2 separate regions of the Homo sapiens genome follow, and region 1 is linked to region 2. The links come from fine-mapping of genetic effects on gene expression. Tissue or cell type: whole blood. Region 2 holds a variant in brackets; the other region holds the start of a gene. All regions are shown on one strand. Distances are between the middles of the regions.

Evidence for each region. PIP is the estimated chance that this variant, and not a neighbour inherited with it, causes the effect. A credible set is the group of variants that fine-mapping cannot tell apart.
Region 1: it holds the start of TNFSF14, and the variant in region 2 is the best candidate, but not a certain one, in a credible set for the expression of TNFSF14 in whole blood (TOPMed, PIP 0.53).

Annotation. Positions count from the first base shown.
Region 1 is chr19:6,668,952-6,671,703 of GRCh38, reverse strand. TNFSF14 (TNF superfamily member 14) reads left to right here and starts at 1,544. Exons shown (of 4, transcript NM_001376887.1): 1 at 1,544-1,853. The coding sequence starts at 1,635. RefSeq lists a silencer at 415-514 and enhancers at 1,085-1,314, 1,695-1,784, 2,685-2,752.
Region 2 is chr19:6,875,549-6,878,310 of GRCh38, reverse strand. No RefSeq gene overlaps it. Among named protein-coding and RNA genes, the nearest start is that of ADGRE1, 11 kb to the left of the region's middle. The variant A/G (reference allele first, on the strand shown) is at 1,212.

The DNA.
Region 1 (2,752 bases), 210 kb after region 2:
CACCACTGCACTCCAGCCTGGGTGACAAAGTGAGACTCTGCCTCAAAAAAAAAAAGAAAGAAAAAGGCTGGGTGCGGTGGCTTATGCCTGTAATCCCAGCACTTTGGGAGGCCAAGGCAGGCGGATCACGAGGTCAGGAGATTGAGACCATCCTGGCTAACACGGTGAAACCCCGTCTCTACTAAAAATACAAAAAATTAGCTGGGTGCGGTGGTGGGCGCCTGTAGTCCCAGCTACTCAGGAGGCTGAGGCAGGAGAATGGCGTGAACCTGGGAGGCGGAGCTTGCAGTGAGCCGAGATCGCACCACTGCACTCCAGCCTGGGCGACAGAGCGAGACTCCGTCTCGAAAAAAAAAAAAATCCACGCTTGAATGCATGCACACTCATACATGGACCTCCCCACACACATGAACACACCCGTGCAAGTGCGCACACACACATACACGCACCAATGCACAGGCACACACACATGCACACACCTGCACACAGCACATATATGCACACCCACTTGCACATGTGATGCATGTTCACACATACACACACGTGCACATGCATGCATGTACATGGACCACATGCACATGCACACAGATGACCATACACATATGCATGCACCTGCCCACATATGCACGCACATTTACATGCCAGCACATGTATGATACACAGGCATGCGCCTGCACATGTGTACATGATACACACTTGCATGCACACAACTGAATACACACATTCACATGCACACACTGCACACATATATGCATGCAGACAAGCACACACACAGAGCACACATCCACTCCTTTATTCCACTCTTGTGTTTTTCACTGCACTTGTCACATCAAAACACAACAGAAGGCCGGGCATGGTGCGGCTCACGTTTGTAATCCCAGCACTTTGGGAGGCTGAGGTGGGTGGATCGCTTGAGGTCAGGAGTTCGAGACCAGCCTGACCGACATGGTGAAAACCCATCTCTACTAAAAATACAAAAAGCAGCCAGGCGTGGTGGCACGCGCCTGTAATCCCCGCTACTTGGGAGGCTGAGGCAGGAGAATTGCTTGAACCCAGGAGGTGGAGGTTGTAGTAAGCTGAGATCGCGCCACTGCACTCCAGCCTGGGCAACAGAGCGAGACTCCATCTCAAAAACAAAACAAATAAACGAACAAAAAAACCCACAACGTATTATTTTCTTGTTTACGAGGTTTCTTGTCTCTCTGGCTCCACCAGAAGAGGAGCAGGGACCCTTCTTGCTGTTGTTCATTGCTGCATCCCCCACACCGAGAGCAGAGCCTGGCATGGGCAGAAAGTCCTCAGTCGATATTTGGTGGCCCCAAGCGAATGAAGCATCCAAGAAGGGAAAGCTGGGGGCTCCCCACTGCACTTGCCACCTGAGTCACATTTTCAGAAGCCTCTGGAAAGTGTGAGAGTCTGTATGAGTGAGAGTGAGACAGGGCCAAGACCGGGGGCGGCGGGTACCGGAAGAAGAGGAGGGTGAGTGGGGGAAGGGGTGGGGCTGAACCCCAGCTCTAAAGGCGGCCCACGGGTGCCTGTCCGCAGCGTGCACAGCCCAGGAGTGTTGAGCAATTTCGGTTTCCTCTGAGGTTGAAGGACCCAGGCGTGTCAGCCCTGCTCCAGACACCTTGGGCATGGAGGAGAGTGTCGTACGGCCCTCAGTGTTTGTGGTGGATGGACAGACCGACATCCCATTCACGAGGCTGGGACGAAGCCACCGGAGACAGTCGTGCAGTGTGGCCCGGGTGGGTCTGGGTCTCTTGCTGTTGCTGATGGGGGCCGGGCTGGCCGTCCAAGGCTGGTTCCTCCTGCAGCTGCACTGGCGTCTAGGAGAGATGGTCACCCGCCTGCCTGTGAGTGGGACCGGGGGGCTGAGAGCAGGTGGAGGTGAGGGGGGCTCCCCTGTGTCATTGTGGGTCACTGTGTGTCTGTGTGTGTGTGTGTGTGTGTGTGTGTGTGTGTGTGTAGGACAGGGCACAGGCTGAGAGCAGCTGGCTTGACTGGTTGCTGCTCCCAGCCTTGGGCAAGTGAATTCACCTCTCTGAACCTCAGTGTCTTCATCTACAAAATAAGGGCAGTCTCTTCATAGGGGACGAAGTATGCTATGGCATGTGTAGTACCAGACGATGCCAGCTCCACCCGTCGGAACTGACACCCCAACACTGCCATGCACACCCCTGTGCACACACGCATGCATTTTCTCTGTACTTTTTTATTTTTGAGACGGAGTTTCACTCTCGTTGCCCAGGCTGGAGTGCAATGGCATGATCTCTGCTCACCGCAACCTCTGCCTCCCGGGTTCAAGTGATTCTCCTGCCTCAGCCTCCCGAGTAGCTGGGATTACAGGCATGCGCCACCACGCCTGGCCAATTTTGTATTTTTAGTAGAGATGGGGCTTCTCTATGTTTGTCAGGCTGGTCTCAAACTCCCGACCTCAGGAGATCCACCCGCCTCAGCCTCCCAAAGTGCTGGGATTACAGGTGTGAGCCACTGCGCCTGGCCTTCTCTGGTACTCTTATTACTGTTACTGCGATTGTCATTAATTCTCTGACCATTTCCATCTGTGGAAATTTCTCGGTCTGCTTCCAGCTGGCTGTGGATGTGTCCGCCTGTCTGTGTGCCTCACCTGGGGGTCTATGTGTGCCCAACACCATACCCCTGTGGGCTTGGCCCCTTTTGTGTCCTGGGTCTGGATCCGGTGGCCACACATTCGTGTCCATATACCCATGTGGACGTATGTGCGTGTACCCAC
Region 2 (2,762 bases):
GGCTGGGCTAAAGAGTTGGAAGGTTTTGCAATCAAACCCAGATCCCTTCTGGGGATGGGGATGGGATGAGGCTTGCCACGGACCTGGCAGCTTGGGGAAAACACAGATTTAGTATATGATGGGTCCAGAGGTCAGAGTCCTCTCGAGTCTCATGGGACTAAAACCAAGATGCCAGCAGGGCTGCAATCCTTCCCGAGGCTCCAGGGCAGAATCCATTCCTTGTCCTTTCTGGCTTCTGGAGGCAACCCACATGCCCTGGCTCATGGTCCCTTCCTTCCTATGCAAAGCCAGCAGCTAGCAGTTTCAAATGTCTCTTGCGTACTCTAAATCTCTCGTTCTTGCTCTCTCTCTCTCTCTCATTTTCCCTCTCTCTTGCTCTCTCATTCTCTCTCTTTTTCTCTGTCTGTCTCTCTCTCAAGTTCTCTCTCTTGCTTATTCTCTCATTTTTCCCTCCCTCTTGCTCTTTCATTCTCTCTTTTTTTTTTCTCCTTTTTTTTTGAGACAGAGTCTCAGTCTGTCACCCAGGCTGGAGTGCAGTGGTACGATCTCGGCTCACTGCAACCTCCGTCTCTCGGGTTCAAGCGATTCTCCTGCTTCAGCCTCCCGAGTAGCTGGGATTACAGGCATCTGCCACCATACCTGGCTAACTTTTGTATTTTTAGTAGAGATGGGGTTTCACCATATTGACTAGACTGGCCTTAATCTCCTGACCTCAAGTGATCCGCCCGCCTCGGCCTCCCAAAGTGCTGGAATTACAGGCGCGAGCCACTGCGCCTGGCCCATTCTGTCTGTCTTGTTCACTCTCCTTATTGCTCTTGTTCTCTCTCTCTCTCTCTCGTTCTCTCTCATTCTTTCTCTCTCTCTCACTCTCTGTGTATCTCTATCTCTCCATCTCTCTCTCTCTCCCTGATCCTCCTGTCTCCTTCTCGTAAGAATTCTTGTAATGACATTAGGCAGAGGTTGCAGTGAGCTGAGATCGTGCCATTGCACTCCAGCCTGGGCAGCAGAGTAAGACTCTGTCCCCACTCCCCCCACCTCCCCCCCAAAAAAATAGCCCTTAACTGAATCCCATCTGCAAAAGTCCCTTTTGTCATAGAAGGGAACACATCCTTGGGCTTTAGGGATTAGGCTGTAGGTGCCTCGTGGAGGGAGAGGAGGCCCTTTATCCCACCTACCACAGGCAGGGTATCGGGTCCTAGTGAGACACTGAA[A/G]ACCCAAGACTCCAGACACCCTTCAAACCCACAGAGGTGACCGAAGCTATATAAAGACTGTCCTGCAGCGGCCCTGCAGAGTTGCGGGTGGGGGTGTAAGAACAGGAAGGGGAAAGATGTGGAAGAGGAAATCAACAATTCTGGCCAAGAAGCTTACAAAATCTAACCCCTAATGACTTCCCTAGCAAAGGGGAATACAAGGGACTCTCAAGATTGAAGAAATCAGCCTGGGGAGCTGCAGGAACATCACTTACCGTCACACAGAGTGCCGGGAAGGGGCAGGGAAGTTGGGGAATCCCTGCCTAACCTGTCCACGCCCTGCTTAGACTCTAAACCCTTCCATGGCTCCCTATTGCCCTCAGGATGAAGTTCAGGCTTATTAATATGGCACTCAAGGCTCTACGTAGTCTGACTCTGGTCTCCCCATCTTGTTTTATTGATCTCCACTCCCCCTAAAGCCCTAGTGATCAGCTAGACACAGTGGCTCATGCCTGTAATCCCACCACTTTGGGAAATCAAGGCAGGAGGATCGCTTGAGCCCAGGAGTTCAAGGCAACATACTGAGATCCTGAATCTACAGAAAAAAATTTTTTTTTAATTAGTTGGGCATAGTGGCTGGTGCACACCTGTGGTCCCAGCTACTCAGGAGGCCAAGGTGGGAGGACTGTTTGAGCCCAGGAGTTCAAGGCCAGCTTGAGCAACATGGAGAAACCCCATCTCTATAAAAGAAAATTTTTAATAAGCCAGGCCTAGTGGTGTATGCCTGTAGTCCCAGCTACTCGGGAGGATTGCTTGAGCCCAGGAGGTCAAGGTCACAGTGAGCCGTGATGGCACCAGTACACTCCAGCCTGGGCAACAGAGTGAGACCCTGTCTCAAAAAAACAACAACAAAAAGCCCCCCAGTGATTATAAAATACTTGAAGTCCCTGTTGTGGGTGCAGTCAACGCTCTGCTCACTGACCTTTCCCAGGCTGGTGCACCCATCCTGGGGCTGCTGTGAGTGAGTGCTGCCTACAATAGCTCATAGCTCACAGCTTCCCCCTTCTCCTCAGCTGAGCAACTGTGCAAACCCTCAGACCCAGCCCACAGCCATAACGGATGGTCACAGAGGTGCAGAAGGCCAGCCCCATGCCCCCAGGGTGAGACCAACCTGGTGGCACCAGTCACACTCCAGGGCTCCCCATGGGATCCGGCTAAGGCTGGACTCCAGCTAAGACCACTTCCTTGCTTAGCTCATTCCCTTGCTCTGTCCTGATCTTCTCCCTCAAAAACACCTGTGCACAAGAAACCTCACAGCAAGTTCTACTTCAAACTCTCTCTCTTTTTCTTTTCTTTTTTTTGAGACAGGGACTTGCTCTGTTGCCCAGGCTGGAGTGCAACGGCTCAGTCACAGCTCACTGCAGCCTCAACTGCCTGAATTCAAGCAATCCTCCCACCTCAGCCTCCTAAATAGCTGAGACCACAAGCATACCCTACCATACCCTGCTAATTTTTTTTTTTCTCTTTTAGAGATGAGATCTTGCTTTATTGCCCAGGCTGGTCTCAAACTCC